3 linked regions of the Homo sapiens genome follow. The protein of the gene in region 1 interacts with the protein of each later gene in a pairwise test. Each region holds a gene or a part of one and is shown in the gene's direction. Other genes may lie near its edges.

Region 1 (3,750 bases):
ACAAAGCGCGGCCTCTTTTCCGCCGGGGTTTAGGGAGGGAAGGCCGGATTAGGGCCCGCGCCTTCCGGCTGCATCCCTCTCGCGCCGCGCCGGCCGCACACAGGTGGTTTTCCGCTCGGGAGGGGCAGGCTTCGGCACTTTTATATAACAATAGAGCTCTGCGCGCCGGGAACGCGCCTCCCCGCCGCCGCGGCCCCCACCCGGCCACGCCTCCATCCGGCTTCCAATCCGTCCGCCCCGCGGCGCCTGGGCCGAGTGCTGCTCGCTGGCCTGGCCCGCACCTCCCCAAAGTTACCTGCTGGCTTTGCAGCGCGGTAGAGACGTTCCCCTCGACTCCTTGGGAGCGAGGAGCCAGGGGGGTCCCGGCAGGCACTCGTCCTTGCTCCCCCCACCCTCCCCAGATCTCTATGGACCCGGGAGTCCCTCGCTGAGCCCCGCACCCGTCCACTGCGTCGCGCACAGCCCCGTGCCCAAGCGGGGAGACGGGGACGGCGGGGCGGTGGCAGGGAGCGCAGCGCGCAGGCGCGGCTGGTGCTCCCCGGAGTGCCCGGCGCTGGACAAAGGGAGGAGGCGGCGGCAGGAGAGGGCTGGGGAGGCCCCCTCTGACATGCCTCCCTGCCAACTGTAACCAATCGTCGAGCCCCCCTGCCGAGCCCCCGCAGCCTGCAGGTCTTGCGGGAGGACTTCCTCACGCCTCGCCCATGGCGGGGACTGCTGGCCCGGCCCGGCGCGTCCCAGCACACCTCGCTCAGGCAGCCCCGCCAGACCGGCTCCCCCGTCAGAAGCCGAGCTCCTTGCCCAGAAATCATTAACCAGCGCGACCTCCCAGCAGGCGATGGTGGTGGTGGGGCGGGGGGAGAGATATAGATTCCCCCGAACAATGGCTTGTAACTCCCCACGCCGCCGGAGCGGAATACAGTAAAAGCACTGGACTGACCTAAGAGTTTGTTTCTGCACTCTACATTGTTTTAATGAAAATAAAATGTTATTTTAAGAAAAAAGGTTTTCTTCTGATTTTCTGCACAACCAGACGTTTGTTTGTTTGCTTTAAAATGTTTCAACAAAATCCTGGTTTGTTTCGAAATATGTTGGATTAGCATTTAACACCTCATCGGTCACTAAAGCCCAGTCAGTTCACCAGCCCCAACACAGCCTCGGCTAAAAGAACATCAGAGCAAACAGAGCTGGGCCTTTAAAAGTGGCAAACAAATGCCACACACCGCCTAAAGAAGGGGGGTTGGGGGAGGGGAGGGTTAAGGCGAACTTGGGTCCAAATGAGTTTGAAGGGAATACAAAGAACGAAAAGTCAGCACAAGTTTTCCTAAAGCTAGCTCGCGAACGCAAGCGTCGCGAACAAGGGCTTTTGTGCATGCTAATTGCGCCATTGGTGCGCAAAAGTTCCGACGCGAAGTGTGAACTCTCAACAGAAGGAAACATGAGACAACTGAAGTGCCCTGGTTTATGTGCCCTGCTCCTCCTCCGCTGCCGCCTCCCCTTCTTTCTCCTTCCTCCCGCCGAGCCCGCTGTTGCAGCTTGTTTGCACTGGGGCTTATCCGGAGCGGAAATTCCTTTCCGTTTTTGTGAATGACAAACTCATTAACAATTCATCAACACAACCTGTTCCAGCCGGCCCGTCCCCACGGCAACAGCCCCTTCCGCAGCACGCTCATTGGCTGGCCCGGAGAATGTATCCATTGAGACGCTCGCTGTTTGTATCCATTGAGGAGCTGCCTCGCGCAGGGGGTGTGCGAGGCTGAGTCCAAGAGATAGCAAATCGAGTCTTAAATAATCCGGGGAGAAAGACGCCCGGGTAGATTTGAGGTGCAGCCTTGGAGGGAGGGATTAGAAGCCGCTAGACTTTTTTTCCTCCCCTCTCAGTAGCACGGAGTCCGAATTAATTGGATTTCATTCACTGGGGAGGAACAAAAACTATCTGGGCAGCTTCATTGAGAGAGATTCATTGACACTAAGAGCCAGCGGCTGCAGCTGGGTGCAGAGAGAACCTCCGGCTTTACTTCTGTCTCGTCTGCCCCAACCGCTAGCCTCGGCTTGGGTAAGGCGAGGCGGAATTAAACCCCGCTCCGAGAGCGGCAGCTTCGCGCGCGGTGCGCTCGGCCTATGCCTGCCCCGAGGGGCGTCTGGTAGGCACCCCGCCCTCTCCCGCAGCTCGACCCCCATGATAGATACGCTCAGACCCGTGCCCTTCGCGTCGGAAATGGCGATCAGCAAGACGGTGGCGTGGCTCAACGAGCAGCTGGAGCTGGGCAACGAGCGGCTGCTGCTGATGGACTGCCGGCCGCAGGAGCTATACGAGTCGTCGCACATCGAGTCGGCCATCAACGTGGCCATCCCGGGCATCATGCTGCGGCGCCTGCAGAAGGGTAACCTGCCGGTGCGCGCGCTCTTCACGCGCGGCGAGGACCGGGACCGCTTCACCCGGCGCTGTGGCACCGACACAGTGGTGCTCTACGACGAGAGCAGCAGCGACTGGAACGAGAATACGGGCGGCGAGTCGGTGCTCGGGCTGCTGCTCAAGAAGCTCAAGGACGAGGGCTGCCGGGCGTTCTACCTGGAAGGTACGCGCCCAGGGAACTCCGCGCGCGGGGCAGGGCTAGGGGCGCAGGGCTGCGGGCGGGGCGCGTGGATTGAAAATACCTCTGCTCCGCTCAGCTGGAGCTTCGGAGCCGCGCTGCCCGCCTAGGGACCGGCAGCCGGCGAGGTAGGGGCCGCGAACCGCGCGTTCCGCACCAGAGAACCGGGCCGGCTCAGAATCCACTCGCTTCCGGCTGCGGGTACCGGCGGTTTCTTTCTAACGGGTTCTGCGCCTTCTTAGCCAGAACATCCTCCACCATCACCCTGTTTTCTATCGTTCGATTTTGAATTAAGATTTGCAGGACGGGAGAGATTGTTGGGGATGCAAATTGGCACATCTTAGCTCTCAAAATATTCCAAAAAGTTGCCATTTTGTCTATTTCCGGATTCAAGCGAATAAGGGTTCCCTGGCGAGGCGGGCCCGTTCGTTCCATTCCCGATGGTGCACATTTAAAGTGTGTTTCTCTTATAGATGGTTCTGTATGTAGGGGGTTCGTAGGATGCTTGTGGTGTTTCTTGCGCCGGGCTGCGGTTCTTACAAGCTGTGAAAACTACTACGGCTTCTCAGGTTAGATGATTGCTTTTCTCGTTCTGGCAGGTGGCTTCAGTAAGTTCCAAGCCGAGTTCTCCCTGCATTGCGAGACCAATCTAGACGGCTCGTGTAGCAGCAGCTCGCCGCCGTTGCCAGTGCTGGGGCTCGGGGGCCTGCGGATCAGCTCTGACTCTTCCTCGGACATCGAGTCTGACCTTGACCGAGACCCCAATAGTGCAACAGACTCGGATGGTAGTCCGCTGTCCAACAGCCAGCCTTCCTTCCCAGTGGAGATCTTGCCCTTCCTCTACTTGGGCTGTGCCAAAGACTCCACCAACTTGGACGTGTTGGAGGAATTCGGCATCAAGTACATCTTGAACGTCACCCCCAATTTGCCGAATCTCTTTGAGAACGCAGGAGAGTTTAAATACAAGCAAATCCCCATCTCGGATCACTGGAGCCAAAACCTGTCCCAGTTTTTCCCTGAGGCCATTTCTTTCATAGGTGAGACTAATTAATAGTCGTCGCTCTGACATTTAAATGCAAAATTCCTAGCCATTCATAGAGTTTAAGCTGTTAATCGTTCTTGCTGCTTGCTAATTTGTCTGACTGCAGGTCTCTAATGT
Region 2 (3,750 bases), on another chromosome or scaffold:
CATTTGTTGTTTTAAGCATTGTCATAGAATCCTGGCTTCAAAGGCTGCTATAGGGTGGGAGAAGATAATTGTGGAGCGTGGGATATTGATCATACTGATGGGAGATTTGGAGTGGGGTCTCAGGGCACTGCTCCAGTGAGATTCAGTTTGTGAAACGTACTTGGTATTGCCAGCATTTCCATCAACTCACAGTTGCCCTGAGAACAGATCCAGCCTAGAAGAGTTATTTAAAGGACAGGGCAAGGGAAAGCAGCTGGGGGCTTAAAGAATTCACCTCTTAGCTCCCCTGTTTGCCTAATTTCTCTGCCTTTCTTTATTCCCAACTTAGAGAGTAGAAAGAGTGGTTTCTAAGTCTTGGTGTGCCTGAAGCATGCCTGGGGTGCTGTTAAAAGGCAGGTTTCTGGGCTCATCTCCATAACTGGATCTGAGGGTAAAGTAAGGATGTTTTGGTCACACTGCCTTTCTTGGGCCTCTCTTTTCAGAGTCCTATCTTACTCCTTTTTGTATCTGATTCTCACACCAACTTTGTTAGGTCAACACCTTCCATTATTACTATTATGAATATGAAGATAAGGAGGGTAGCTGTGGTAGGCAGCCTCTAAGATGGCCTGATGATATCTGCCTCCAGATATTCACGCCCTTAGGCAGTCCTCCTCCTTGAGTATGAATTGGACCTAGTACCTCACTTCTTGTGATTAGAATATGGTAAAAGTGATGGAACGTCACCTCTGAGACCAGGTTACAGAGGTGGCGGCTCCCATTCCTGCGATCTCGGGCTTTCTGTCTCCTGCATCGCCGGCTGCTTTGTTGGGAGCACTCTCAGGCAGCCCGCAGAGAATCCCCATCACGAGAAACCGAGGCACCATGACCTGCTTGGAATTCGCTTAGAAGTGTATTCTCCAGCTCTGGTTGGGCCCAGCTTGACTGCAACTCCATGAAAGATCTGGAGACACAAGCACTCAGCTAAACCATTCCAGAACTCCTGGCCCACAAAAGTGTGAGATAAGTGTTGTAAGTCATTTGGTCTCAGAATAATTTGTTTCCAACAATAGATAACTAAGTGTGTGGCAAAAGCAGGAGAAGCCGCAGATTAAAAAAGAACTTGGCCACTTTGGCCACCCTTCTGCCTGGGGCTGGAGTTTGATGCCCTTTCTGAAAGATTAAAATGGACACTAGATGTGTCTTTTCTTTTGTCTTTAAATCATTTCAGTTTTTAACTCGTCACTGCAGCTGCCTTTTGTAACTACTGCAGATCCCCACATTTCTCCTCTGTGGAGCTCCCCAGGCCAGCAGTGCCCACACTCCCTGCCCACCGAGGGTCAGTGAGCAGTACGGCTTCTGGCCCAGTGCCAGCCACGCCCGTGTGCCTTGTGGCCAAGCACTTCTTCACATCACAAGCTGGCTCGATGTCTTGGGTGTGATGTCTGCGAGCTTATTATGAACTTTGAGCTCACAGAAAACAGTGTTCTAGGAAACACTGTTTTGAGATGTGGGGGAGTGGGGAAGTTGTGGGCAAGGTGCCTGCAAAGACCAACTCACATCAGCCCCTTCTGAGAAAGAAAGAAAAATTGCCTCATAGACCAAACAAGGGTTTGGGTGGCTGCTGTCCGTGTCTGGGGAGTTGCCCTGGCAGAAGCTGGGAAACAGATGAGCGGTCATCATCAGGAAGATTTCTGCCTTTCCTTACAGCACCTTTTACTCCCAGAAACATTGTCTTCCCTGGTGCCCGGGACTCCATCCAGCTTGCCAGGCTTCTAGAATCTCCTCACCCCACACAGCACCCCTTCAGGCCATAGACAGGTCAAGCACCACTCTTCCACTCAAATTGATCAGTTTGGTGTCCTGTTAGCTAGGTACTTGTTTTCTCTTAGTCACCAGTGACTCCCCTAAAGTAGTTATCCTCCCTTCTTTAAGGTTTCACTGGCAGTATAATGTCAAAAAAACAGAACAGTCAAGGTCTAACACAAATTACTCACTTATTTTATCCATACATTTAGAAAAACTAACATCTCTGGAGACCATCACTTCTTAGAATAATGGACATTTTAGTATCAAAAGGAAAAGTGCACACACGTGCGAACACAGACACAGGATCACTTCAGACCCCAAATGTATAAAGGGCATAAACTCAGAATAAAGGATAACTTTCTAAATTGAATAAATATGTGAAAAACTCAATGTCCCAATTTTACTATTTTCCCCTCTCCTTGGTGTGGGGTCTTGGTTTGGTGTCTAACTCCAAACCAAGAAGTCTAACTCCAACTTGGAAGTCTTTTCTAACTCCTGTTCAGAGGTAGAAATCCATCCATGCTATAGCCAAGCTAGTTATGTGTCACTCTCCCCAGATAATATGGGTTAATGTGGCTAAAACGTGCCTATCTTCAAAAGGCCCTTAAGAAATGGGGCCTTTTGAAGATAGGCTGGGCGCGGTGGCTCACGCCTGTAATCCTAGCACTTTGGGAGGCCGAGGCAGGTGGATCACGAGGTCAGGAGATCGAGACCATCCTGACTAACACAGTGAAACCCCGTCTCTACTAAAAATACAAAAAGAAATTAGCCGGGCGTGGTGGCAGACACCTGTAGTCCCAGCTACTCGGGAGGCTGAGGCAGGAGAATGGCGTGAACCCGGGAGCAGAGGTTGCAGTGAGCTGAGATCGTGCCACCACACTCCAGCCTGGGAGACAGAGTGAGACTCCATCTCAAAAAAAAAAAAAAAAAAAAAAGGATGTAGTGGTGGGCATTTATGGCAGAGTAATGAGGAAGTTTGGCCTTTCTGTAAATTTCTGGAAAAAAAAACAAAAAGGATATGTTGCAGCAAACTTACAGAATCAGCTCTGGTCACCCAGAGCCATTTTTCCAAAGCCACAAGTTTTTAAGGCTTTCCCCACTCACCACAGCCCATCAACTGCAAAAGCAGCCGGTATCAGACATTCCTCATCTTAAAACCACAACCTGGAGCGCCTGGCTTGGGCAACAAGCCTGGTCTTTGGGTTAAGGCAGCTCTCAAAACTGAGCCAGTTTCAAGCCATGTTTTTAAATATAAATCACTAGCCATGTGCCAGTTATTATGATGACCAAATTCAGTAGGAATGCATTTCACTCAAGGCACTGATTCAAAACGAAACCCTGACATCGGAAATGCCAGGGGATGAACTGGAGGTGACGATGTAAACTTCAAAACATTAGACATGAGGAAGCGACAGCGGCTTTGCTTCCCGCGCAGCCCGGGCCCCACAGTTCTTCACATCTGTTCCTTTGTCCTCTTCAGAGATGACCTTAGGAGCTATTCTGAGAAGGGGTGCTTCTCACTTTTGCTTTCTTCCAGTGCCCCCTGGTGGAAACCTGTTCCCAATCAGCCCAGCTGTTGCCACCCAGGAACCTCTGGGGGTGGAAGGAATGTCAATAGGAGCCTCTCCTAGAGGACAGAGGGGCGCAAATCCTTCCAAGGAAAAAACACAAATACCAAAGATGGGAGGGCCAACTGCCTATCCCATGACAGATGTGCCGGTTTCTAAAGGTCACAGAGATTACATCTGATGCGATGCCCTTTTTCTGATTTGCTGGCCTGAGGCTCATCATTAGAGATATTTACTGAGGAATGAGAAGTAGATGAAAAGAACAGCGCAGATGTAAGCCTGGGAGAGGAAGCTCAGCTCCTTCAGTGATAATCTTCAAGCCCGAATATATTCTTTCCACATTTCCTTCCAGCAGGCAAATAGTCATTGCCTATCTCTGGGGCATTTTTGTCAC
Region 3 (2,988 bases), about 82 Mb from region 1:
CGGGCCCAATTCTTGGTAGAAAAAGCAAAGCAGGAACAGCGGCAGAAAATTGTGCAGGCCGAGGGTGAGGCCGAGGCTGCCAAGATGATATCCTTCTGCTGGAGAGATCTCAGCCCAGCCCCTAGGGCACCTGAGTTCCCCATTCTCCTTCATGGGCAGGCTGATGAGACTAAGGCGAATGCGACTCCGTGCTCTCTGGCCCTTGGCTCCTTGTTGGGGGTGGGGACTACAGATGAGATCTGAAATCTTAGTGGTAGTACCTGAGCCATGACTCCCCACTGTAAGGCCAGATCAATAGCATTGGTGGCCTTGCCTTCATTTCTGGTGCTGCCCCTAGTTCCTGGCAGCAGCCTGCAGGGAGGCCCACAGGTGGGGTCCACGGTAGGGCTGGGCACAAGCCACCTGAGCGCAACCTTGGATCTGACAGCCCAGAGGAGGACTGGAGCAAGGGAGTGTGGTAAGGACAGGGCCAGGGATTGAGACCTGCCCTTGCGTGTACCTTAACCCTCCTCACCTTGGAGAAGCACTGAGCAAGAACCCTGGCTACATCAAACTTCGCAAGATTCGAGCAGCCCAGAATATCTCCAAGACGGTGAGTGTGTCAGCCCAGCGTCTCTGATGGGGCTGCCTTGAGAAAGTGCTTTCAGTTAAGGCACATTGAGGTGAGGGAATTCGAACCTTGCTTGTTCCGGTTTCTACTCAGATTGGCTTCTCTGGCCGGCGCGGTGGCTCACGCATGTAATCCCCGCACTTTGGGAGGCCAAGGTGGGTGGATCACCTGAGGTCAGGAGTTCGAGACCAGCCTGGCCAACATGGTGAAACCCCATCTCTACTAAAAATACAAAAGATAATGAGCCCGCTGTGGTGGCGTTTAGCTATATTCCCAGCTACGCAGGAGGCTGAGGCAGGAGAATCACTTGAACCCAGGAGGCGGAAGTTGCAGTGAGCTGAGATCATGCCACTGCACTCCAGCCTGAGCAACAGAGCAAGACTCCGTCTCAAAAATAAATAAATAAAAAATTGGCTTCTCCGATACTCCTCCTGTCAAGAATGATTCCTCTGGGTTCCCTGACCTTTTGTTCTAATCATAGCTGCTGCTCAGCGCTCTGGATCCCTAAGTGCGAGCAGAAACCATGTGTTACTCATTGCTGCACCCCTGCCCTAATCTGCATGTGTTCCATGTTAAGTAGCTGCTGAATTGCAGGGGTCGGAATTGAGGTCTTTGCTTAATGCAAGCATCTGTCTTATTTCCTGCCCTGTAGATCGCCACATCACAGAATCGTATCTATCTCACAGCTGACAACCTTGTGCTGAACCTACAGGATGAAAGTTTCACCAGGTGAGAGATGTGGCCACACTGTGGGGTATCACCAAGAACGTGGGACCTGAGTCTGGTTGTTTGGGCTCTGGAGCCTGCTACAGCTATTCATATGGCTCAGAGACATTGAACCAAAATTAGAAAAGGGGGTGGTTGACAGTTTCTATCTTGCATCTCATAGGATTGATTTTATGAGATCAAATAGGATTATTCACATAAAAAGCACTTTAATTATAAAGTTTTCATCTAACCAAAAAGTGATGAAAGATGATACTCAGTTTTCTTACTCAAGAGCCCTCAAACTCCTCTGGTGAATGGAGGGATGTTAGGAAAGGAGATGAGAAATAGCAGTGGCCATGAGAACATGCCTCCTCCTTTCATGAGCCTGAGATTCCTGGCTGTCAACCCTGTTTATCTTTTCTCTTGGGAGCAAAGGAGGGTTCAAAGCTGAGTGGGGCCTGAAGCTGTCAATTAACATGTGCATTTCTCTTCTCTGTTTCTTGTTCATCTGGCGATCTGGCACCACAGGGGAAGGTAAGCTGTTGTTGCTTCTGTGGGGTCCTGCAGGCCACCTTCTCCAGTACCCGCCTCCTACCCTACCCCCTTTCCCACCTCCCCGAAGACAAACCCTCAATCAGGGTAGGAGGGTCGTAGAGGGAATGGCCTAGAGTGTCCTGCCTCTCACATTTATGTCCCCTAATAATGTCATTATCTATCTTTTTTTTCCTACAGTGACAGCCTCATCAAGGGTAAGAAATGAGCCTAGTCACCAAGAACTCCACCCCCAGAGGAAGTGGATCTGCTTCTCCAGTTTTTGAGGAGCCAGCCAGGGGTCCAGCACAGCCCTACCCCGCCCCAGTATCATGCGATGGTCCCCCACACCGGTTCCCTGAACCCCTCTTGGATTAAGGAAGACTGAAGACTAGCCCCTTTTCTGGGGAATTACTTTCCTCCTCCCTGTGTTAACTGGGGCTGTTGGGGACAGTGCGTGATTTCTCAGTGATTTCCTACAGTGTTGTTCCCTCCCTCAAGGCTGGGAGGAGATAAACACCAACCCAGGAATTCTCAATAAATTTTTATTACTTAACCTGAAGTCAAGGCTTCACGTGTTCATGAACTGGGTAACTGGCAGCAAGCATGCGCACGTTCACATGTGCGCTCCTGGGTCTGTCTTTGTGTGTGCCAGCAGGGGGCGCAAAAGAATCTGGCTGGGGCGGCTAAGGGGAAGCAAGGCCTGGGCTCCGAAACAGGACCCAAGCTGGGAAGGCTGGCCCTGAGTTCTCGAGGCCCAGCTGTGCTCTTCACACACCCTCCATTTCTCCCACATCACCCATTTTTTTAAGGCTGGACAGCCATGGCTTTGCTGAGCCAGATTAAAAATCTGATGACCCCAACAGGAGCTGCTTCCTTGGCAGCAGGGTTCCTTGTGGCTGTGGGGAGCCTGCCTGTGCCTGTTGAGGCACTTCTGTGCCCAGAAGCCCAGTGGATCGCGTGGCCTGCTGTAGGCCCCCCAGACTCCATTTCTCAGTCACCAGGCGTGAGGAGCTGCTAGCTAACAGGCCTCCCCTGGGGAGGTGGGCTTTTCATGCCCGCAGTTCCGGGGCCAACAGAACAGGTGCCTGTCTGTTCAGTCCACAGATAAGCTGACACTTATCTTCCCAAGACAGGCC

The links.
Region 2: the proteins of DUSP6 (region 1) and TXK interact in binary tests that used the Homo sapiens proteins (3 or more experiments, as listed by UniProt).
Region 3: the proteins of DUSP6 (region 1) and PHB2 interact in binary tests that used the Homo sapiens proteins (3 or more experiments, as listed by UniProt).

The regions. Positions count from the first base shown.
Region 1 is NC_000012.12:89,350,466-89,354,215, reverse strand, and holds the start of DUSP6 (dual specificity protein phosphatase 6), read left to right. Parts: upstream 1-1,714; 5' UTR 1,715-2,176; coding exon 2,177-2,576; intron 2,577-3,190; coding exon 3,191-3,628; intron 3,629-3,750. UniProt on the Homo sapiens protein: Dual specificity protein phosphatase, which mediates dephosphorylation and inactivation of MAP kinases. Has a specificity for the ERK family. Plays an important role in alleviating chronic postoperative pain.
Region 2 is NC_000004.12:48,127,535-48,131,284, reverse strand, and holds part of TXK (tyrosine-protein kinase TXK), read left to right. Parts: intron 1-3,750. UniProt on the Homo sapiens protein: Non-receptor tyrosine kinase that plays a redundant role with ITK in regulation of the adaptive immune response. Regulates the development, function and differentiation of conventional T-cells and nonconventional NKT-cells.
Region 3 is NC_000012.12:6,964,775-6,967,762, reverse strand, and holds the end of PHB2 (prohibitin-2), read left to right. Parts: coding exon 1-87; intron 88-156; exon of another isoform or gene 157-426; intron 427-427; coding exon of another isoform or gene 428-480; exon of another isoform or gene 481-514; coding exon 515-592; intron 593-1,262; coding exon 1,263-1,339; intron 1,340-1,846; coding exon 1,847-1,852; intron 1,853-2,050; coding exon 2,051-2,078; 3' UTR 2,079-2,436; downstream 2,437-2,988.